Regions from separate parts of the Homo sapiens genome. Here all the other regions are linked to region 1. The links come from fine-mapping of genetic effects on gene expression. A gene starts in region 1. Each other region holds a variant in brackets. All regions are shown on one strand. Distances are between the middles of the regions. Region 1 holds the start of NSUN6 (NOP2/Sun RNA methyltransferase 6). Region 2 overlaps NSUN6 (NOP2/Sun RNA methyltransferase 6). Region 3 overlaps NSUN6 (NOP2/Sun RNA methyltransferase 6). Region 4 overlaps NSUN6 (NOP2/Sun RNA methyltransferase 6). Region 5 overlaps CACNB2 (calcium voltage-gated channel auxiliary subunit beta 2). Region 6 overlaps ARL5B (ARF like GTPase 5B).

What was found. PIP is the estimated chance that this variant, and not a neighbour inherited with it, causes the effect.
Region 2: its variant is the best candidate, but not a certain one, in a credible set for the expression of NSUN6 in whole blood (TOPMed, PIP 0.74).
Region 3: its variant is the best candidate, but not a certain one, in a credible set for the expression of NSUN6 in whole blood (INTERVAL, PIP 0.56).
Region 4: its variant is the best candidate, but not a certain one, in a credible set for the expression of NSUN6 in whole blood (INTERVAL, PIP 0.75).
Region 5: its variant is the best candidate, but not a certain one, in a credible set for the expression of NSUN6 in CD4 T cells (CEDAR, PIP 0.90).
Region 6: its variant is the best candidate, but not a certain one, in a credible set for the expression of NSUN6 in whole blood (TOPMed, PIP 0.59).

The regions. Positions count from the first base shown.
Region 1 is chr10:18,649,214-18,653,305 of GRCh38, forward strand. NSUN6 (NOP2/Sun RNA methyltransferase 6) reads right to left here and starts at 2,374. Exons shown (of 11, transcript NM_182543.5): 1 at 1,916-2,374. The coding sequence starts at 1,990. RefSeq lists an enhancer at 2,514-2,613.
Region 2 is chr10:18,549,557-18,553,648 of GRCh38, forward strand. NSUN6 (NOP2/Sun RNA methyltransferase 6) reads right to left here. Exons shown (of 11, transcript NM_182543.5): 9 at 2,267-2,415. Among named protein-coding and RNA genes, the nearest start is that of CACNB2-AS1, 12 kb to the left of the region's middle. RefSeq lists an enhancer at 2,996-3,497. The variant G/C (reference allele first, on the strand shown) is at 1,942.
Region 3 is chr10:18,544,215-18,548,306 of GRCh38, forward strand. It overlaps NSUN6 (NOP2/Sun RNA methyltransferase 6), which reads right to left. Exons shown (of 11, transcript NM_182543.5): 10 at 3,898-4,023; 11 at 1,347-1,931. The coding sequence ends at 1,719. Among named protein-coding and RNA genes, the nearest start is that of CACNB2-AS1, 7.0 kb to the left of the region's middle. The variant T/TAAAAAA (reference allele first, on the strand shown) is at 1,654.
Region 4 is chr10:18,617,413-18,621,504 of GRCh38, forward strand. The region is part of intron 3 of NSUN6 (NOP2/Sun RNA methyltransferase 6); the gene reads right to left. Among named protein-coding and RNA genes, the nearest start is that of NSUN6, 32 kb to the right of the region's middle. The variant A/T (reference allele first, on the strand shown) is at 2,190.
Region 5 is chr10:18,526,738-18,530,829 of GRCh38, forward strand. It overlaps CACNB2 (calcium voltage-gated channel auxiliary subunit beta 2), which reads left to right. Exons shown (of 14, transcript NM_201596.3): 10 at 851-960. The region is part of intron 1 of CACNB2-AS1 (CACNB2 antisense RNA 1); the gene reads right to left. Among named protein-coding and RNA genes, the nearest start is that of CACNB2-AS1, 10 kb to the right of the region's middle. The variant A/C (reference allele first, on the strand shown) is at 2,405.
Region 6 is chr10:18,676,622-18,680,713 of GRCh38, forward strand. It overlaps ARL5B (ARF like GTPase 5B), which reads left to right. Exons shown (of 6, transcript NM_178815.5): 6 at 1-4,092. Among named protein-coding and RNA genes, the nearest start is that of ARL5B, 19 kb to the left of the region's middle. The variant C/T (reference allele first, on the strand shown) is at 2,128.

The DNA of each region.
Region 1 (4,092 bases):
GTAGCAAAGACACCTGTCAAATATGACGGTATAAAGACTCAACAATATTCCCTTGTAATTAACCGAAGCTTTTCAAGAAACGTATTTCTTTGTCTTCCTATTTGACTAAACCCTGCTTTACAGAATCTTCACAAACCACTTGTTAGCCTACTCATGCACCAGCCTTAAAAGTATTCATACTTTCTCAAGGTTTAGTCTTATCAAAACTGAACATTCAGCCTGGGCAACATGGTGAAACCCCATCACTACAAACAATACAAATATTATTAGCCAGAGTGGTGGCCCCTGTCTGAGGTCCCAGCTACTCGGGAGGCTGAGGTGAGAGGATCACTTGAGTCCCAGAGGTCGAAGCAGCAGTGAGCTGTGATCATGTCACTGCACTCCAACATGGGCAACAGAGGGAGACCCTGTCTCAAAAAAAAAAAAAAAAGGCATAAAACTTAATATTCCTTTCCCTTCAGTACTTTTCACAAAGGCATAGCTTTTCATTTTGTAAAACCATACCACTGATGAGACTCGAGGCAGAGGCAGTGTCAAAGAAAGACGTTTGGATCTTCTTTATAAAACGACGTTCTCCATTTTAAAATCTGCTGAAAAAATTGTGGTATGCCCCTACTTCTCCTAATATGTGCCTTATATTTTAAGTCCCTTGAAATCAACAGAATATATTTTCTCTTTCCATACAGTCTAGTACCTCAAGCTAATCTTTGGAAATGAAACGTAGAAATCAAATCTAAAAGGCATGGCTTCAATAACATATTCAAAAATGAGTAACATTTAAGTGGTGTTACTCTAACTAAGAAAACTAAAGATTTCAAAAAAAACAAAGTTGCTTAGAGGCAACATGGTAAAGTGGTAGAGAGGACAGGCTTTGCAATAAAAGACAATCAACATTTACTGAGGACTTCTGTGGCAGGCACTGCCAATTGCAAACAAAATTAACATTTTTTGAAGACTTACATGCCAAAACAATGCAAGTTGTTTTCATTTACGTTTAATATCCTAAAACAACCTGGTAAAATATTTTTAACTTGACTAAAAAATTAAAGATTTGAAAAAAAACAAAGTTGCTTAGAGGCAGCATGGTAAAATGGAATAGACAACAGGCTTTGCAATCAAAGATAATCAACATTTACTGAGGACTTTAGCAAATAAAATTAACATTTTTTGAGGACTTACATGCCAAAACAATGCTAGTTGTATTCACTTACGTTTAATATCCTAAAACAACCTGGCAAGATATTTTTAACCATTCTCAATTTTTCACAGAAGAGAAAAATCTAGGTTAAGCCACGTAATTTACAAAGCACTAGAATGCAAATCATGTGCCTGAGATTCAAAAGCTGTACCTTTGTTCATTACACCTGAACTCTTTCCCTCCAGATTTCAATAGTTACTTGATAGCTGTGTCAACTTGGATCAGTTACACAATTCCTTGAGCAGTTTTCTGCTCAAGTCTATTAAAAGAGGAAAAACCTCTAAGAAAAAAAAGATTGTGAAGATTAAAGATGCAAATCTCCTAGCACAACTGCTGGCATTTAAGAGGCACTCAACAAATTACAGAAACCTTTTCACCTGAGTGCCAGAGCCAGCGCTCTTTTAAAATTCGATTCGAGTTCTTGAAGACAGGGACCTTTTCTTGTTCATCCTTGTAACCCTTTGTGCCATGCCTGACAGGCACATGCCTTTTTTCCCTTCTTTTCCACTCCTAAATGTTAAAACATATACCTTATTCACTTCGTATCTCAGTAAGCTTTAATACCTGTAGAAACATATTGGTATTTTTACACTTGATAGACAAGTAGTAAGGAACGACGGCTGTCAAGATTTCCCTTTATACTTATTTCTATTTCTCTCGAGTGTGCGAATATTTGAGTTTTTGCAAAATATCAACTAACATCTTTACTTGACCTACCTCCTTATTCATAAAGCCTTCCTTAAGATAGTTTTCAACCTCAGGTCTCAAAGATATCTTAGGGAAAATAGACATTTTTCCTGTTGTTTAGTTCTCCACCAAGAGAAATGCTGGAAAACGGTGTTTTGTTTTTTTTTTTCTTTCCGAATTAATAGTGACGAGTGTCTTGACACCAGATGCTGAGGAAAATCTTGCCGATCACGCTGAGTTAATTTCGGAAATGCAGAGGTACACGCTTTCTCAAGCCTAGCCGATTAGAAGGGGCTGCCGGGCTTCCACCACACCTCATCGAGGCAATGTTTTCTGGTAGAGATGCTCATGGAAATCACTGAGCCAATGCCACTCACGTTGCAAAGAACCAAAAAAAGAAAAAAATGCTTAGTAACTGAATCCGTGGTGAAACGGACGCAGATCAGTAAGCCAGGCTGACAGCAGCTCGGTCCCTTTATCTTTTCTATCAATTTCCAAACACGCGCCCCCTATTTCTCGGCGGAAAGTCGCTTCCGGCTTACGTCACGTCCGGCGCCTGCGGCCCACCCCTCCCTTTCCGGTCCCCCAATCCACAGCCGCAAGTTTCCCCAACACTGCGTTACGCTACGCCACGCCCCCGGAGGTTCCTAACCCTGCGTGAGGCTCTTTCACCTGCCTCAGGTTAAGTAGGCAGACCCCGCGGGCGGGATGGTCAAAGATATTTAGTTCCCGGTACCGGAGGGCTAGGTGCCAGGGGCAATGGGGAAACAGCCAAATGGCGTGGGTTGAGTGGAAGATGTTGCTGGACTGAAAAAAGGCACAGCCCAGTTGCTGTCCTGCCAGATGTCCTCCAGTTAGAGGATGAGGCCAGAATTTGGGCGCATCAGCCACCGTTTGATTTCATGACATGATTTTACCTCTCTCAGGCATACAGATCTGACTTCAGTTGTGAAGTTCATAGGGTTCATATTTTTGAAAGTTGGGCTAATGGTCTGTTAATATCCAATGCTCAGGTAAAACTTAAAACCCACAGACAGTGTTTACAGTTAGTTATAAGGCTAACTGCTACTTGTATCATAGTTGACATATTCTTTAGAGTTTGGAAGACCCTCGCCATTATTTTTTTTTCTTTTTTTTCATCATAAGCAGACAAGGATATAGATTCAAAGAACGAGGATATCTAACCAAACTCACTGAGTCATTTTATAACTGTACAGGAAAGTCAAAATAATTCTATCACCTTGACATATGTTTTTTGCAGCACACCATGGTAATTTACACATAAGTATAGGAAAGGGTTTTTTATTGTTTTTTTCTCTTTAATTTTCACACCGAATTATACACACAGACACACACACATAGAACAGGTACTTTCCATGACACACCAACTCTTTACCAGAAAGAGTAGAAAATAATGAATGACCATTATACCACACAACAACCTGCAAGTTGTTTATCATTTTCTCTGCTCTTTTTTTTTTTTTTTTTTTGAGTCTCTGTCGCCCAGACTGGAGTGGAATGGTGGGATCTCGACTCACTGCAACCTCCACCTCCTGGTTCAAGAGATTCTCCTGCCTTGGCCTCCCGAGTAGCTAAAATTACAGGCATGTGCCACCAGGCCCAGCTAATCTTTGTAATTTTAATAGAGACGGGGTTTCACCATGCTGGCCAGGCTGGTCTCAAACTCCTGACTTCAACTGATCTGACTCTCTAGCCTCCCAAAGTGCTGGGATTACAGGCGTGAGCCACCACGCCCAGCCCATTTTCTCTGTTTTAAAGAGTAAATCAAGGTTCCTAGGGTTGAAACAACTCTCCATGTTCTCACAAATAAAAAGCCAGGATAAAGACTAGTAATTTGGCTTCTAGAGCCAATACCTTGTCCTTGACCATAGCATATTTCTTCAATAAATCCATGAGATTCTTTCATGGCTAAAACATCTGAAAGTGATAAATGTCTAAATCAGACATTTCCAAAGGAATTTCTGTAGCCTGAATTTCATGGTGACCATAGCACCACTGATGGCTAGAATCTGTATTTTAGCGATAAAGGAGGAGAAACAAGTTGAACTACATTTTAAACTCCACAAGGATAGAGACTTTATCACACCACTATGTACCCAAGCCTAATCCATAATGGGCACTCAAATACTTACTGAATGACTAAATGAAAAGATGGATGAACATCTCTATAAACTATGGAAAGAAAA
Region 2 (4,092 bases), 100 kb before region 1:
GAAACCTCGTGAATAAGGGCATGGAGTGTTTGTCCACTTTCTCAATGCTGTACCGTCAACATCTAGAATAGCGTCTTACATACAGGAGATCTATGAGTATTTGTTGAATAAATTAATCAGGAGATAAGGTATTGTGCTAAAATGGACTTGTCTGAAATACCTAAAGTTCAGCTTTTCAAGCTCCTAATTTTTAAAAATTTAAAGGAAATCTTTAAAAATAGAGTATACATACTTGTGCTTTTTAAATCAGAGTATGCTGATCAAAATTTAAACTTTGTTACTATGTGCCAGTTACTGTGTGAAACACTGTATATGAATTTTTCTCAATAAATCCTTATAACAACCACAAAGTAAGATGACTATCACCAATGAGGTATTCCTAATAGGTAGAGCTGTTATCCCTGCTACTCAGATATAGAAAACAATGTACCTAAAGTCACTTAGGTGGAAGAGCCATGGCTCAAGTCAACAAGGCTCAAGTCCACATTCTCGATTTCTCTCCATGCCAAATGGCAAACCTGCTATATTCTAGTTCTCTCTGATATACTGTCAGCTTTTCCTTCTCATTGAGATCATTCATCTACTCCTAGTAGCCTTTTAAAATACCATTTTTGCTGTGACCTAATAAGAACAGAAATCCAAGTCCTTTACAGAAGTATCCTAATTTTATTCTCAAGTCAAAGTGGGTTTCGGCTGTAACTAAAGTTTCCTTTTTGCTGCTTGCTGTTTTAATTCTGAGGATGAGTTCTTCGAAGACTTCATAGAAAAAGACGAAGTTAAATAATACACAACCAGTGCTACCTTTGTATATGAAAGGAAACACCAGGAGAGTTGAATCAGAATGTACTCAAAGGCAGCTTTAGAAACTAAATCATTATAGAACATCCATTGTTGCTCTAGCCTTGTATTTTGGAGGGCTGGGAGGAAATAATGAATTCATCTATGATCAAACACTGCCTATACACGCTGAAATCCACTGAGTCATTTTTGAAAGACTAGGAGAAATCCTCAAATGTTCTATCTGGGCTTCTGAAAGTGCTGGAGACAAGTTAAATTTGTACAGTTTTTATGGTTCTCCTATATCCTACGCTGGCCACTGTCTCTTCCTGTTTTTATCAATGAGTTTTGCTCCCTATTGGGCCTTCTTCTAAAGACGACCCCCAAAAAATCTCTTTTTTTTTTTTTTTTGAGACAATCTTACTCTGTTGCCCAGGCTGGAGTGCAGTGGCATGACTTCAGCTCACTGCAACCTTCGCCTCCCGAGTTCAAGCAATTCTCCTGCCTCAACCTCCCGAGTAGCTGGGACTACAGGCGCCCACAACCACACCCAGCTAATTTTTTGTATTTTTAGTAGAGACGGGGTTTTGCCATGTTGGCCAGGCTGGTCTCGAACTCCTGACCTCAGGTGATCAGCCCGCCTCAGCCTCCCAAAGTGCTGAGATGATGGGCGCAAGCCACCATACTAGCCAATAACTCTATTTTTTTAAAAAAAAGAGTAATTTATTTTATATCTAATTCTTTACATCAATTAGTAACTACAAGTTAACAACTCAGTGACTTTTTTCAGATAGAGAATATTTGAAATTTATTAAATATCTCAGTGATGAAATTCTACTATTGCCTGTATATCTTAAAGGTGAGTCAACTTAAATGAAAACTTCCTATATTTAAAACTAGGTCCTCTCAGTTGTGTGTGTGTGTGTGTGTGTGTGTGTGTGTGTGTGTGTGTGTGTGTGGTAAAATATAAATAACATAAAATTTATCATTTTAGCCATTTTAAGTCAATAATGACATTCAGTACAGTCACATTGCTGGGCAATGATCACCACCATTCATCTCCAGAACTTTTTCATTATCCCAAACTGCAAGTCTATACCCATTAAACAATAGCTCCTCAATCTCCCAGCCCCACAATGCCTGGTAGTATCTATTCTTCTTCCT[G/C]TCTCTGTGAATTTCCCAGCTACCTCATATAAGCAAAATCTTAAAGCATTTTTCCTTTTGTGTCTGGTTCATATTACTGAGCATAATGTTTTCCAGGTTCACCCATGTTGTGCCTGTATCAGAATCTCATTCCCTTTGAAGGCTGAATAATGTTCCATGTATGGATATAGCACATTCTGTTATCCATGTATCTGTCAACAGACTCTTGGGTTGTTCCCACCTTTTGGCTATTGTAATGAACGCTGCTATGGAGATTGCTGTCAGTAGTTTAAACATCAAAGTAGCAAAAGTTAACTTTGTTTCACAAAAACAGACCACCACATACTGCAGTGAAGAGTTTTCGCTGTAATGGCTGATATGATGCCACTTCCTTCACAGACCAAGTACAGGCCATGTTTGGTCTCTGTCCCATTCCACTACAGGGTGCATCCAGAAGAATTCGGTCAAAGGATTCTGGTAGAAATGGAGGTTCTCCTATAAAGAGAATTATAATCATGTTTACTATCTTCCATATAGGTTTAAACTAGAAAACTCCTGAGATGAGCAGGAATTTAAAATCATAATCTAGAATAAAAAAATGAAACAATTTCTCCCTTCAATCAAGTAGCTGGTTAAACTAATTTTGACTTATACCTAATACAGATTTGATGTGGTAGAAAGGTTTAAAATGTAGTTATAGTTGAAAAGTTATTCTGTTGATATAGTACAAACCAAGGCCTAATCACAAAAGACCTTCTACCCCAAACTTCAGAAGCCACAACTCATCAAAGCTAGGACTTGGAATTAATTCTAGTTGTTCTGGAAATGGATACTTCTCTTGGTAATTCCTATTGAAGACAGCCCCCAAGAAAATGCCTGTTTGACTGTTGTGAAACACACTGATTCTGTGTTCCTGAGTCTCCTTGTTTCTGTGGCCATGAGAATGGCTATGGTCTAGAATAGGGAGAATGAGCCAGTACCACCCCTAGATTCAATCTTCCACGAAGTTTTCCTTTGCATTCACTTCAGTAATTTTCTCTAACTTCTAATCTATTTAATATTATTGGAGGAAGGTGTGAAACCAAGTGGTCTGTTTACATATTTGGGCTGTCTACCTGCTACCAAGATTTCCATTCCATTCCGCATTCCATTTCATTCCGCATTCCATTCCATTCCCCATTCTATTCCATTCTCCATTCCATTCCATTCCATTCCCCATTCCATTCCATTCTGCGTTCCATTCCATTCTCCATTCCACTCCATTCAATTCTCTACTCCATTCTATTCTCCATTCCATTTGATTCTCCATTCCATTCTTCTCCATTCAAATTCCCTAATCAATTCCATGCTCCATTACATTCCATTCTACACTACACTGCATTCCACATACCATTCCATTCTCAATTCACCATTCCATTCTCCCTTCCATTCCATTCCACTACACTCGACTCTCCATTCCATTCTCCACTCAATTCTCCATTACATTCCATTCTCCATTCCATTCCATTCCATTCTATTCCACTCCATTCTCTAATCTATTCTCCATTTCATTCCATTCCCTTCTCCATTCCATTTCCCAATCCATTCTCCATTCCATTAAATTCCATCTTCAGTTCGATTCCATTCTCCATTCCATTCCGTTCGATTCTCCATTCCATTCCATTCTCCCTTCCCTTCCATTCCATTCTCCATTCCATTCCATTGCATTCTCCATTCCATTCCATTGCATTCTCCATTCCATTCCATGCTCCATTCGATTCCATTTCATTCTCCATTCCATTCCATCCTCCATACCATTCCATTCTCTATTCCGTTCCGTTCTCCATTCCATGGAATGGAATGGGGAATGGTATGGAATGAAATGCAGAATGGAAGAGAATGGAATGGAGAATGGAAGGGAATGGGAAGGAGAATGGAATGGAATGCAGAACGGAGAATGGAATGGAATGGAGAATGGAATGGAATGCGAAATGGAATGGAATGGAGAATGAACTGGAATGGAGAATGGAATGGAATGGAGAATGGAATGGAGCGGAGAAAGGAATGGAGTGGAGAATGGAATGAAAGGGAGGATGGAATGGAATGAAATGGAGTGTGGAATGGAGATTGTTTTGAATGGAATAGGGAATGGAATGGCATGGAGTGGAACGGAATGGAAGGAAGAATGGAATG
Region 3 (4,092 bases), 100 kb before region 1:
TTAGATGTGGGAGCCAGGGGCACAGAGAAGGGGAGCAGTGCCTATCCAACCTCAGGGAAAGGTATTCAAGAAAGCCTCCTTTAAAGAAGAGGCAATCTAAAGGTCTTACCTGATCCAAGAGACCTTGCAATCCTTATGGATACAATAAATAGTTATGAGAAATTCCTAAAGAAAACCTGTGGAGGGCGGGGCGGGGGGGCGGGCGGAAATCAAACTATTAACCAATTGTCCATTTCTTAAGCCCAAGGCCTAATAACTTTTGGGTGATTTGAATGAAAGTTAACAAAACAGTATGATGGATTTAACACCATGAGACAGCCTTAAAACTATGGCTGGGAAGTAAGTATTCTGATTGATCTAAAAAGCCAATAGGAAGGCAAAATCCTAAGGCTGTAATGTTTTTTTTAAAAGCTGGCTGGGTGCAATGGCTAACATATGTAATCCCAGTGCTTTAGAAGGCCAAGGCAGCGGGACTGCTTCAGGCCAGGAGTTCAAGACCAGCTTGGGTAACAAAGCAAGATCCCATCTCTTTAAAAAAAAAAAAAAAAAAAAATTAGCCAAGCATGGTTGCACACAACTGTGTTGTCCTAGCTACATGGGAGACTGAGGCAGGAAGATTGCTTTAGCCCAGGAGTTTGAGGTTGTAGTGAGCTATGAAATCATGCCACTGCACTCCAGCCTGGGTGGCAGAGCAAGACCTTGTCTTTAAAAAGTAAAATTAAATTGAAAAGCAGTCACTTATTTTGGCCACTACAGTGGGATGCTTGATTTTTGCAATTCGAAGGATGATCTGCTTTTTGTCTGAATTCAGACTTGATTGTGGTCTTTTTTTGTCTGGATCTATGATAGGTACGGCTGCCTTGTCTGATGTTGGGGATAGGTGAAACTGCTTACGTTCAACAGGAGAACACCAAGGCCCAGCTATAAGGGTCAGGTCAGGCCACTTCCCAGCTGCCAGAGCTGGTTTTTTCTTTCTCACCAAGCATTTTCTAATAACTGATATGTTTCAAATACATGATAAGTTATCCAAATTGTAGAATAATCTCATTTTCTAAATCTACAAAGTAAAGAAAATACTAACTTTACTTTTTCGTTTAAAATTATGAAAAACATTGAACATAGACTACCATTTAGACTACGATAGTCTTTAGACTATCACTTCACACTATCATTCAGAGGAGGTCCAGACTTCATTTGAAAGGGGGTTGACTTACTAAATAAGCAGACAGAGAGTCAGGTAAAATACTTACCTCCATTATTGGCACATAGTCAATGTTTTACTTCCCATGCCCTGAATCCTTAAGAAACTAGGAACCTAGAAACAAAAACAACTTTTCATAACCACATCAAATATTGCTAATTTATTCCTTTTGTTAGATTCACTAATTTTTAACATTAAAAATGACTTGTACACTTTACAAATTAAAACATTAGATCACAAATGAAAATATGCTCCAGACATCTATAGGCATCTGCTTTTCTTTATACTCTACTAAATACATAAAAAAAAAAAATCTTTTAAAAACAGAAAATATAATCTCATACCACCCCCTACTTCCTCTATGTCTCTGGATCCCTGGTAAAACAGCTGGCAGCCTTTTCTGTTTCCATAGCAACCACATCATCATTCAGTTGGCCTGACAACACTTTGGT[T/TAAAAAA]AAAAAAAAAAAAACCACAGACAGCAAATGTTTGGAATTTTCATTTCTGAGCATCCATCCCTCTCCTATGTGCTTTTGCATTTTACAAATTTTGCAATAAAAAAACCTATAGAGTCCTTATTAGCCAGACGCAACATGTCTTCTCTTCTGGCCTCTCTAAGAGAGTCCATGTCAGTGTCCGGTAATGGCACAGCCGATGGATCAAATCGCTGCAGCTGTTTCAACTGTTCACATGAGAGCCCAGCTCCCCTCATTCCTTCTCCTCCAATCTGCGGTTCCTGTTTGGAGAAAGTGGATCAATATGGATGAACATCCTGTAATTAGCAAGTATGACTGCTACAATTTAAGTTAAAAGACAAATTGGGCTGTAACGACTACATCTTCCAAAAATAGAAAAATGAGTAAATGCCTTTCATTTTGGTGGAACATACGTGCTGCTTTCCAGACAGTAAAGTAGGAAAGCAATACTATGCGTCACCTGATGAACAAATACCTATTATTACATGCTTATCAAACACTGTGACATTATCAAAGGCCTGAGCTTCCTAGTTGGAAACAAGTGGACTCAAATTGCAGCTCTACCACATTTTAGCTGTGTGACTTTAGGTAATGTTAACTAACCACATTTCCTCATCTATTAAACAAGGCTTAAGTAACGAAGGTGGTATCACACCTGGCATATAGCAGGGACTCAGTAAATGGAACATTATTATCAATAAAGCAGCAAAGGCCAGGCACAGTGGCTCACACCTATAATCCCAGCACTTAGGGAGGCCGAGGCGGGCTGATTACCTGAGGTCAGGAGTTCAAGACCAGCCTGGCCAACAAGGTGACACCCTGTCTCTACCAAAAATACAAAAATTAGCCAGGTGTGGTGGTGCATGCCTGTAATCCCAGTTACTTGGGAGGCTGAGGCATGAGAATTGCCCGGGAGACAGAGGTTGCAGAGAGCCAAGATTGTGCCTGGGCAATCCAGCCTGAGCGACAGAGTGACACTCCATCTCAAAAAACAAAAAATGAAAGAAAAGAAAAGAAAAGAGAAGGAAGGGAGTGGGGACGGGGAGGGGAAGAAGAAAAAGAAAAAGAAAAAAGAAAAAAGAAAAAAGAAAGCAACAGAAAAAATTCAGCTTTATTTAACAGTTTCCAAAACTGAAAGGTGGTCTTTGGGCATCTAAGGTACCTCTCTCTGACCCATACCAGTTGGGCGAGAAAAGTTTCTAGAAAAACAAACATAAGAAAGGAAACATAATTTAAGGCTGTATCAATTAGTTTAGAGGAATCATAAGGCATTGAATGATACTTGCAAACTACTGAAGAAGATCTATAATCCTAAGTCACCATCACAGACAATCATCTGCATGTTAATGAAGATAGGTTTTCAGACATATACTTAAGAAAACAGATCGTTTATTATCCCATGGAGGTCAGGGGAAAACTTCCCATCCCTTTTAGGTATATATTTTGAGTGTGTGTATATTTCCAAATGAATTCCGAAGTCTTCCTTTCATCTACAATGTAATTATCTTAATTTACGAGACTAGAAACCATCTCTGAATTGTCTTTATTTATGTATTCCCATTACCTAATTTCTGTATAGAAAGGTACTAAAGTTAGATGCTCAATGTATCTGAATGTATGCGAGCATTATTACAGATTTAAACTTAATCTCAAATATCCTGGACTAAAAATTGAATCAAAAATACATTTCTAATAAAGACCATAACATAAAGAGTTGTGTTAGGTAAAAGAAAGTATAGCAAAGCTTTTTAAATATTATACATTTTATATAATAAGCAATAATCCAGAAATACTTTTTTCCCTTTCAGCTGGTCTTCTGATATCCCACAGTTATTAAAGCTCATTTGAGCTTTGATGTGACATGAGAGAAAATGCTCAACATTTTCCATGTCAGAAAAATACAGGACTGGGAAGGAGAAAAAAATCTTTTTAGAAAAAAGGTGCCGAGTAACATGAATAGCTACAAGGGGAATAAACACATAACAAAAACACTCCCAAGCTCTGTGCCATTTTAACACAATGGCAGGAACAAAGATGAGAAAAAACTTTGTCAGGACATGCAAATTATGGGCAGTCTAAAGTGGATTTAATTAGATAAGCATTCTTGTTTATTACAGTGTTCACTTTGGAAGTTTTACTTATCTCTTCGTTAACACCCTGATTACCACAGTGCTTCAGTTTCTGTGATTTATCTTATTACACAGAGAAAAATGAAATTACTCCTACCTGGGGCTGAAGCTGAAGGCAAGGAAATTTTGTCAGGGCCCAGGCAACCTGTTCTTCATTTTCGGCCAGTGTTATAGTGCACGTGCTATAAACCAGCACACCCTCTGGCTTCAGCAGCTGAACCGCCTAAAGAAAACTGTGATCAGACCACACACAGCACAAGACCAGATAAACATATGAATGAATTTCAAAGCA
Region 4 (4,092 bases), 32 kb before region 1:
CCTGACCTCAGGTGATCCACCAGCCTCAGCCTCCCAAAGTACTGGGATTATAGGCATGAGCCACCACGCCCAGCTTAGACTCTTAATTAGTATTTCTAATTACCTACGGACAGCTATATAGAGACGTCTCACAGTTACTTCAAACTCAACAAGTCCTAAACAATAATCAGTTTTCCCTCATCCATTCCTCCACTCCTTGGCAGGATCCCAAATCTTTTCATCCTGTTTCCAATCTTGAATGAGACGTCATTATCTGCCCAGATAACCAAACTAGATGCCTCAGTGTTACGGTCTGGATGTGTCCCCCAATATTCATGTGCTGGCAACTTAATCCCTAGTGCAACAGTGTTGGAATATGAGGCCTATTGGGAGCTGTTCAGGTCATGAGTGCTCTGCCCTCATGAATGAATTAATGCTATAATAAAAAGGGCTTGCAGCAGTGAGTTTGCTTTCTCTTGCCCTTGTGCCCTCTACCATGTACAGATGCAGCAAGAAAGCCCTCACCAGATGCAAATGCCTCGATCTTGGACTTCGTATCCTCCAACACTACAAAAAACAAATTTATGTTCTTTATAAATTATCCAGTCTCAGGTATTCTGCTATAGCAGCAAAAAATAAACTAAGACACTCAGCGTCATCTTAAAGTCCTCCTAAGCCTTCACATTGATTGATTTAGGAATCAAGCTATCTTCTAGTTCTGATAGGTTTTGTGGGCGTATCTCCTGATGTTGGACACATATCTCTTTGTGATTACTGAAATAGCTTCCTGCCTTTTACCACTGGTTTCAGATTTTCTCTGTCTTTGGTGTTCTGCAACTTCACTCTGAAGTATGTAGACATGAATCTACTTTTACTTTTGGCTTCAAGCTCACACTTCTTAAATTTTTCATCAGTGATAGAAATTCATGGTCATTACACTTGTGATTATTGTCTTTCCCCCATTATTCCTATTCTCTATACCTGAGACTCATTAAAAATATAAATGCTGGTCAGGTGCAGTGGCTCACACCTGTAATCCCAGTACTTTTGGAGGCTGAGGTGGGTGGATCACATGAGGTTGGGAGTTCAAGACCAGCCTGACCAACATGAAGAAATCCCCGTCTCTACTAAAAATACAAAATTACCCAGGCATGGTGGCGCATGCCTGTAATCCCAGATACTTGGAAGGCTGAGGCAGGAGAATCACTTGAACCCAGGAGGTGGAGGTTGCAGTGAGCCGAGATGGTGCCATTGCACTCCAGCGTGGGCAATAAGAGCAAAACTCCATCTCAAAAAAAAAAAAAAAAAAAGAAACGTAAAGTGCTTTTTCATGACTCAATTTCACTTTCATATTTTTAATTTCTCTCTGCTGCATTCTAGATAATTTCCTAAGAGTCATCTCCTAATTCAAAAACTTTCTCATCAGTTGGGTCTAATCTGCTGTTTAATTCATTGTATGAGTTTTTAATTTTAATGATAATTTATTTTTAGAAATTTGTTTTCAATTCTACCTTTTTATCCTTAGGGTCTTTTATGTTTTACTCTTTCATTTTTAATCATTTTAAGAAAACTGTTTTGTCTACAGCCATATCACTCTGAACATGCCCGATCTCAGCTGATCTTGGAAGAAAACTGTTTTTATAGTCTATGCCAGAGAGGTCTATTTGTTAAAAGTTCTGAGGGAAATCCAATCCTGCAGCTTATTATATATGCTGATTCTTACTCATAGTGGTTTGATTCCCAGTGTAGCTTTTAACAATGCCAAGTGTTTGGCTTGGACTGAATGAGTGCTGCTCCAGAGTGGTGTCACTTAGTTTTTGCCAAGTACCCAGGAATTGGCTTGGGACCAAACAGTTAATTTCCCAGTTTGCAGGTTCCAATTTAGGTTGCAGCAATTTGCATTCCAGACCTTTATGACGGAGGGAACTTACGGCTGCGCATTCTCAGAAACACATTTTTCTCCAACCTATATCCTAAGGCAAGAAAGACCTACTTTTAATTACTGCCTTGTAATGACTACTGGGTATTTCTCACCCTTACTATTAACACTTAATTGTTTAAACCAAAGACCCTAAATTTAGAAGAAAGACCACCTCCTTTCCCATACCTTCAACCCCCCAATAATAACTCACATGCTTGCTGTTCTCTTTTCAATTATTCTGCATTCCTAACCTCTAATATATCAACTACATTTTTAATCACTCAACTAC[A/T]TCATTTTGTGGCCTACTATGTTCTTTTTTACTTAGCACTCCTCGGTGTATGTAGCAAAAACATCTTCATGTTATCTAATTCACCATACATATTATTGAAGCTAAAAAACTCGGAAATACTTTTCTAACTTTTCTCCAGGTTTGCAATTCAACTTTTGAAAAAATTTCTGAAACTTTTGACTGTCAGTTGATGTAAGAAACACACTTGATAAAAGAACTTATTTCAAGTTTTTATATCATTTGAGATCTTGATATAAGAAACTACACATACATGTCTGTGTGTGTGGTATCACACATAACATTTCATTAAATATTTTTACTATGTGCGATGCAATATATTATAAAACATCCCTTTTTTTTTAAATATTCATTGAAAACATTAAATTGATTTCACAAGTTACTAATGGGTCATGATCTCCAAGCAGTTTGGAAGACCACTACCACTATTATATTTCTAAAATACACATCTAATTTTTACTAATAAAAAAAATTTTTTTTTTTTTTGAGACGGAGTCTAGCTCTGTCTCCCAGGCTGGAGTGCAGTTGCGCCATCTTGGCTCGCTGCAAGCTCCACCTCCCGGGTTCACGCCATTCTCCTGCCTCAGCCTCCTGAGTAGCTGAGACTACAGGCACCCGCCACCATACCCGGCTAATTTTTTGTGTTTTTAGTAGAGATGGGGTTACACCGTGTTAGCCAGGATAGTCTCGATCTCCTGACTTCGTGATCCGCCCGCCTCGGCCTCCCAAAGTGCTGGGATTACAGGCATGAGCCACTGCGCCCGACAATAAAAATTCTTTAGCTTCTTAAGTCTATGAAAAAAAAATTCCTTGGTACAAAAAAATCTTCATACTTCATATCTGCCTCTCCCAACTTCTTCAGTTTCATCTTTCACCCATCCCCCAACTCTGAAAACAAATAGCCAAACCTGATCACTTTTATCAGCAGCCACCAATGTTTCATGCATTCATGTCTTTCCTCATGCCTTCTCTCTGCCTAGCATAACCTTGCCCACCTTAACAGCCCTTCGGCCTAATTTCTCCTCACCTTCAAGACTCAAATGAAATAATATCTGCTTAGAGAAAATATTTAACAATTTCTTTGTACTCAGTCCTTCCTATTCTATGCTCCAATAGCATTTAATTTATACTTCTACTGTGACTATCATAACAGTCTGACTTGTACCAAAGTCTCCTGACTTTAGACTATAGAACTATGTCTCATTCATCTTTGTAACACCATCACATCTCACATATAGCACAAATTCAAAAACATGTTTTGTGGAAGTGAAATCTGTAGTGTTAGATTTTATGAAAATAACATGGAGGGGAAAGGATGAATTCTGGAACAGAGAACTGTGCAGAAAAAAGTTAACATAGTAGGCCTGATCTGTTATCTTTGAAAAGCCTGCTTACAAGGCTGGCCCTTGACTGACATCTGGGAACTGAGATTTCAGGAGGTTTACTTATTAACTGCTAAGAGTGGCTCACTGTGCCTGAATTATTGAACAAACTATGATTTATAGTAAATACCAGCTTTCCTTCTGAGAATCCAGAATGTGGGTATGTACCAGGCAGTGGGAATCTACATGATGAGCCCTGAATAGGAATCCTGGCAGTGAGTCTCATGTGGTCACAGCTCAGCACTGGGGGACTTCCTGTGGGAGTCCTGTGTGACTCCCCTGGAAGAGGACTCTGGAAGCTTGTGATGGTTTTCCCTTTGCTGATTGTGCTTCATATTCTTTCACTGTAACAAATCATAGCCGTAAGTACAAGTATGTGCTGAATTCCCTAATTCCTCTTAGAGAATCACAGAACCAAGGAATGGTCTTGGGGATCCATAGACACCAGGACTGACAATATAAAAACACAGTATGTCATATGCAAGTATCAATATTTAAGTCAG
Region 5 (4,092 bases), 120 kb before region 1:
ATCATCATCTTTAATTATTTTCCTTTATTATTTATCTCTGCCACTAGACCATTAGCTATCTGAGGGAAGACTGGTTCTTATTTATTTTTCATGCCTATCACAGCAATGAACTATGGCACAGAGACTAGGAATATAGGGTCAGGAGTCTGGGTTCAAATCCCAGCTCTCCCACTTAGTTACATACATACCCTTGGATAAAAAATCTCTCTGTGAGTCTCATTTTTCATCAGCAACAGTGGGATAATAGTAAACGTTTCTCCTAGAGCTTTTTGGATCATTTAGTAATTCAAATAAAGTGCTCAGTACTTATCTGACACTTGTAAGCAACAAGTAAGTGCAACGTAAGGCAGGTGCAGGATAGGGCCGGGCGCGGTGGCTCACACCTATAATCCCAGCACTTTGGAAGGCCGAGGGAGGCGGATCACTTGAGGCCAGGAATTCAAGACCAGCTTCCATAGTGAAACCCCCTCTGTACTGAAAATACAAAAATTAGCCGGGTGTGGTGGCACACACCTGTAGTCCCAGCTACTCCAGAGGCTGAGGCAGGAGAATCACTTGAACCTGAAAGGTGGAGATTGCAGTGAGCCGAGAACGCACCACTGCATTGCAGCCTGGGCAGCCTGGGCGAGACTCTGTCTCAAAACAAACAAAAAACAAAGTAAGGCAGGTGCAAGATAAAAATGAATAAGTAAAAAGAAAAAAAATGAATAAGTAAGTATCCTAACACATATGGTTTGAAAATATGGTTGCTATATATATTTCATACTTAGATGAATTTGGGGCATACACTTCTATCCCCTTTGATTAGACCAATAACCTTAAGGTCTTCTGTGACTTTTTCCTCCAACAGGATATCCATCACAAGGGTCACCGCTGACATCTCGCTTGCCAAACGCTCGGTATTAAACAATCCCAGTAAGCACGCAATAATAGAAAGATCCAACACAAGGTCAAGCTTAGGTAAGTCTGTGCAATGAGCTTAAGCTTTTTAAACTCTCCTCTCCCGATGTTGATGATGAGAAGACCTAACAAGATGATAATTCCATGTGTCACAGAGTATAGAAAAAACAGGTGTGTGCTGCCAGTCGCTGTTGCTATGGTCTTACTGATTTCATGGTGTGGAAGGATTTGTTATGATAGTTTCAAGTTAAGAATTCCACAGGCTGTCAGCATTAATGTTTTGGTTGTGGTTTGTTTTCACTAACATGAGCTTTGGTGTCTGCAGACTCTAAGATCTCCTGGCTTTGCATCAGTGTTACCATGAGCAAGTTTATTAACCTTTTGAAGCCTCCATTTCCTCATCCTAAAAAAGAAATAAAATAACTACCTCATAGAATCATTGCAAGGATTAAACATGATATGTGCTCAATAAATGATATCCATTATTATCCTAAATATTCCTTAATTCCAGTTATATATCAATAATGAAATCATTCTCAGGAGAGTGTAATTTGTGGGTGTGGAAATTAGTAAAAGATGAAGTCAATTCCTGGCTATATTTATTGATAGATATCAATATGTTTGTTTTATTTGTAAAAACAGTGTAGGGAGTTATTGTGTTTACAGAGATGGTATGTGGATACTGCTTATTAACGTATACTGAATTGATCACACTGAGACCCTTCAGCTGCTATTTAATCTTTTTGGTATGTGCTTGGAGTTTTAGGTTAATCACTGTTACACATGTTGCTTACTGGATGGTTAGGTTTCTGTTTTTATAAAGTAAACTTTCTGAGAGTTGTGTCAGATCTTTGAGCTTAATTTTTCTCTGTTTATAGGTTAGATATACAAATCCTCTGAGAGGCTGGTTTCTAACATAGAAGTTCTTCGTTTACTCTGAAGTATGATTATATAAATAACAGAAAAACTATTATAAATAATAAGCTTTATATGTTAGCAATGAGCATGATACATTATAGAACTCAGTTTTGTTTCTCACCTAACAACCCTTCGTTGGCAAAACTTCAGTAACAGGTTTAGAAATATATTTGAGGAAAAAATGTAATCATGTGTTTTGCTTATAGCAATTCCTTTTTATGTCCTTATCATCTGTCACAGTTAAAACTCTTTCCACACATCATTTGATGCTCACAAGAATTACTTTTTATTTTGACTTTTTTGAGAGAGGGTCGCACTCTGTTACCCAGGCTGGAGTACAGTGGTGTGGATCATGGCTCACTGCACCTTGACCTCATGGGCTCAATCAAACCTCCCACCTCAGCCTCCTGAGTATCTGGGACTACAGGCACATGCCACTACATTGGGCTAATTTTTTGTAGAGAGGGAGTCTCACTATGTTGCCCACGCTGGTCTCCAATTCCCAGGCTTGGGCAATCCTGCCTTGGCCTCCTGAAGTGCCAGGACTATAGGTATGAGCCACTGTGCCTGGCCAAGAATTATTATA[A/C]AATGCTTATTTCATAAATTAAACTGAATTAACAAAGTCAAGTAATTTTTTAGACTCATCAGTGGAATCAATTACATAACAGATTTCCTTAGATTGCCAAGATTTTTTTTACAACTACTGATTATACATTGTTTTTAAATGAATTTTCCAGTCTATGTATTTCATTGAGCATACACTAGATACCAAATATCATGTGGAAGCCCATGAATAAAAAAAGAAACTGATGAAGCCCCTTCCCTCAAGGAGCTGGGTGTAGCCATAAGGCGAATCAGTGAAGAGCCCTTTGAGATAGAGGGTGATGAGCAAAGTGGTCGAGCCATGAACTGGCTGCCAAAGAGCTGTTGCTGCAGGAGGCACAGGGAAAGGCTTTTCCAGGGAGCTGATCCTGAGCTGAGACTTGAAGATGACAGGATTTAGCCAAGAAAAAAGGGAAAGGAGTGGAGAGGGTGACAGTGATTCGAGACAGTGAAAGCCACAACAGGCTTCTGAAAAACATAGGTGCTTCATTTAAGCTAAAATATATTGTTTTAAAAAGAAGGACATGGGAGATGACATGACAGAGAGAGGCAGGCATAAGACATGAAAAGGTTGGAGCTTATTTCTATTAGTCTGTTCTCAGGAAAAAATGTGATCATGTGTTTCGCTTATAGCAATTTCTTTTTTATGTCCTTATCTATCACACTTAAAACTCTTTCCACACATCATTTGACGCTCACAAGAATTACTGCTAATAAAGACATACCCAAGACTGGGTAAAGTAAAGAGGTTTAATGGAATCACAGTTCCACATGGCTAGTGAGGCCTCACAATCATGGTAGACAGTGAAGGAGGAGCAAAGTCACATCTTACATGGCAGCAGGCAAGAGAGAGCATGTGCAGGGGAACTCCCCTTTATGAAACCATTAGATCTCATGAGACTCATTCACTATCAGGAGAACTACATGGGAAAGACCAAGTCCCATGATTCAATTACCCCCCACCAGGTCCCTCCTGTGACACATGGGAATTATGGGAGCTACAATTCAAGATGAGATTTCGGTGGGCACAGCCAAACCATGTCATTATTCTTAAGGTGGTAGGAGACCATGTACAGACTGGAGGCATTCATTCATTTAGCAAATACTTGAATACCAACCATGTGCCAGCCATTATTTTGGTGCCCAGGGACACAAAAGTGAAGGACACAAAGTCCTCTTTCTCATAGTGTTTGTTTTACAGGAAGACATGGACAAAATCTTGTATATATAGACAGACAGAGATGGCTGGTCAGTGGTTGAGAATTCTAAAAGCAGCAGCAGACCAAGGAATAAAGAGTGAGCCAAGGAGGAGGCTGTAATATTATTATAATAAAATGCAAGAAGTACAAAAATGCAAAAAAAAAAAAAAAATGCAGTTGGGCAAACCAACTGCATCTAACACCAAACCCATTTTATAATAAAGTGTAGAGTATATCATGTAATGTATTGAATACTAAAAGTGAAAAACAGAATGGTTGTATGGGGACTCAAAGTTCGGTTCCCACTGTACATATATTGCTTTCACACTCTTATAAAGTTGAAAAATCTTTAAGTCAAACCATCGTAAGTCATGGACTGTCTGCACTTAGTGTAGGCCAAGTACTGCAGTAACTATAACGGAAGCTTTGCATGTGGATTAATTTAGTCCTCATTTCCGTAATACAGATTAGA
Region 6 (4,092 bases), 27 kb after region 1:
ATACTTCATTTTTGCAGTACTTTTTAATTTTGATAAAAAAGATACAAAGTTCATAATATCAAAATATGTGTTCAAAATTGGTATTTTAATTTTAATATTTTTGTAAGTTGATTTAAATTTTGCTCTTTTTTCAGGTGTGCTTGGTTTATTATATTTAGTCAAGTTAATTTAGTCGAATGTGGTAACATTTTTCTGATTTATCTTTAGTTGGAGCACACCCTTGAACTGAACAGTGGCCAAAGGAAAGCTTTCTGGGCTTTGGAAAGTAGTTGTTTAACTTTGTTTTAAGCCGTTTTCTTAGTGATTCTGTATCAAGTAGAGGATAAGTGTAGTTTAACTTAGTTTTTAATATAACCCATAATCAAGAACATGAGCGAAAAGCAGACATAAATCGATATGGATGGTTTGTGGTGTGTGTGGGATGTGGGGGAATTAAGAAAATGCCATTTACCTAAGCACAGTTTGCCTGAATTTCTGCTTGGTTGTGTTGTTTACCGTAAGTACTGAGGGTAGTTTCCCTAAGTCTGTCCTGAGAAAAAGCATACTTAGTACTCCTGTATTTGTTCTTATGAAATGACTATCTGCCTTCTTGTATCTAGTAAGATTGGCTGGCTCAATTTTCTTCTGTCAAATTATATGGTTATTTTTTATATTACCACATCAGCATTATATTAAAAGTGTTTTTAATAGTTGATTGTATTTTGCCAACTACTAGTATAGACTCAAATTTGCTATTTAATTTTTAAAATACAATTTATTTTGTAAATCCTTTAAAAAATATTTGGTTAGTTTTGGATTAGAAATGATTTATGTTAGCCATGTGTTGAAGATGAAATTGGCATCAGTGTAGACGGTGCTGATTGGGAAAAGTTCATGATTAGGAAATTCATGTAAGACTTTTTAAGAGTATTTTTTAGGTTTTCACTCAATCTTTCCTGTCACAGTAACGTGAAAACTGATTATTCTTTACTCCAAGAGAATGTTTTAACCCAAGCAAGTATCTAATACTAGAGCATTGGTTCTGACATTCATTGTAAATCAGTGAACTGTAAGATACTGTCTAAAAAATGTACATTTGTAATTAGTGCCTTTATTCATATTTTGAAATAAGTTCTTAGTTTTATATTATACCTGTTCTTTAGAAGTCATGTTAGCAGCTAATTATTTCAGTGATGAAATAATTTGTGTTTTATATCCCCCTTCACCTCCATGTATTGGTTAGCACAGTTTATAGTAAGTGAAAAGCAAGGGACCCACCTACATTACCTTCAGGAGACTGTTCTACCTTTTAATTTGAAAACAAGGAAATTAAATTTTAACAGAAATCTTTTAAGTATGTTATAACCAAAGTGTTCAATTATCCTTGCAAGTTCAAATACAGCATTTTTCTTAATTTTGAGCGTGTCATGTCCTTCATCTTTAAACCCATCATTCTTATTGAAGCCCATTTGAGAACTCTTAGAATTAATAGAACCTTTTATAAGGGAATATATGGAATATTTTTTATTGTTAATGTAACTTAATTCCTTAAAACCTGGAATATTAATATATATAATCTATTAAAAGCTGAAGATTAAATATGTAATTTTTGCTTTTAGTTTCTTGTGTTAGTATGCTTAAAGGTATCAATACTTTTATTCTATATTCATTAGAAGAAAGGTAATAAATTTAAGTTTCATTGCTGAAAAATTTTAAATGAGTGCCACCCCATAGCCATAGTCATTTTGATTAAGCATAATTTAACTTTCATTATAGCATAAAGAGAAAATAATTATTTTAGTATGGAAACAGTGATAGGCAGTGCTGTAAACAATATTCTCTGAAAAGTTGTGGGGGTCACAAAGAAAATTTTAAAGAATATAGAAGCTTTTTTAAAAAATCTTTTTAGTGTAGTTTCTTAGAACAAATTATAAACATAATCATTCTGAATAATCAATTTTTATTTAGTCCTTAACTATGTAAAACCGTATCAGTAGAAAAATGTGCTGGTGTCGTGTCTAAAGATGGATAAATTTCTTTGGAATTTATCTTTGGAGACCAACTTTATGAGGCAGACTTTTTGTCTACAGCTTTGGAACCAAAAAAACTTCACTCTAATTCAGTCCTAAAGGCTATTTTACATTTTGC[C/T]GGGGTAAAGTGACTTCAAGATACAGCATGGTGTCTTGTATCTAGTAGAATATTGTGCTAGCCATCTAAAAAAGTGGATTTGAGCCTTAATTTGGCCGTTTCTCAATTGTCTAGTTGACCTTAGACAATTAGTGTCCATGGCTTTCCTTTTGTTTTTCCCATACTGAGGAACTTAAACTACAGCTCTAAAATGTCTTTTGGTTTTAAAATTCTGAATGCTTATATACTACTATTAAAAATTAAAAATCCCTCAAATAGTAGGGCAATACAGGTAATATGAAATTAAATGTATTTTTATCCATTATTTGATTCCCACCTGTTATTTTATTTAGAATACGAATACAACCAAGTAGGGAAAAACGTATCAGTAACTGCTATTCAACTTAAATTCAGCGAATTAATAGCTGAATAGAAATAGCTAATGACAATGCAAAAGAGAAAACAAGCCATATTGCTAAGAAAAGGATAGTAAGCTGCTTAGAAAGAACCAGCCTGTGTTGGAAATAATTCTCTTCTAGATAATTTACCTTATTTTCTTGGCTTGTACTAATTGAATGGAAGTGGTTAATTTGTTCAGAGTTTATTGCCGTTTGATGCCACCCCAGTCTATAGTTCTGTGTGACTTTCCATATTGAAAGAGTAGGGTTAGTAGCCAGGTTGTCAGTCTTTTACAAATGTCTACATAAATGTCTACATAAATCTGAAAGTGGTTTATATTCAAGGTTAGTTTTTCAGTAGCGTCTCCTCCTTATTCATTCACTTTTACTGTGAAGACTGAAATCCAAAAGCCAGGTTCCCCAAAAAAGTATTTTTAAAAAATTTTAGGGGACCAAAATAAATAGAGGAAGACCAATATAAAAAAATATGTTCAACTATTCCATTTTAAATTTAAAGCAGAAAAAAAAATTGTGCCCCTCAGACCTAAAGGCAGCTTTAAATGTATATAGTTTGGTGAAACATTTGGGAAATATTAATTTGGAGGTTTAGAAGCATACGAAAAACAAATTCAAAGCACTTGAAAGTAAAGACAATATCATGAGGTCGAAAAAACTTCAAAAGGATATTAGGTAAGAGAAAATGTGAATGAAAGCAGTGAATTTCTGCCTCTCCTCGTATTTAGGGTACTTAAAATTACTAAAAAATACTGTCTTTTTACCATACAGCTAGATGGCCTGTATTATTCTTAATGTGGCCAAAGGAGTGAAGACTGATTAGGGTTTTAGAATTTGGAACTGTAGTCACATAAAGGCATCTTTTGCATTTCTTAAACCAGTAATCTACATTTTCTCCTGGAAATGGAGAAATATGAAATGTGCTGTGCATAGCTTTTGGAATAGAAAACAAAGTTTTAAAAGAATGGATATGTTTTCTTGCACAACTTGTAAAATTTTAATTAAAAAATTACCTCATTTTTCAATCCATAAGGTGCTTTGCTCAAGTTTGTGGGATGTTTGTACCATCCCATAAAAACCCCCTTCACCCAAACTGTATTTGAAATATGCAAAATTCATAACTAAGGGATAGCATTCCTTGGAGACTTTGTTTTGTTTTACTCTTGTTTACCAGCTGGGCCAACATGGTAGATATATGAGATTCACATATGGTTTCATTAAAGCACATAGGAAAGTGCTCAGTCAATATTTAATTAGTTTAATTAGATAAGGGAAAGGAGAAATCCTAAATTTGATGGATTCTTTTATACTGTGAATATATTTCCATCAGTGTTGGTAAGATATCAAATGACTATCAGTTGATCCCAGTCATCAGTGACTTATTTGCATATTTAAGCCCTATTCACAAGAGACCATAATCATTTTAATCTTATATTTTCCCTCAGGAAATTTAGGGACTCTGAAGCCCCTATTTTATTCTCTTGGAGTAAACTGTTGAGTGTAGTTACAAAAACTTTTATTTATGACTTAAAAAAAGTTTAGCTGCTATTTCAGTGAAAGTGTAAAATAAAAC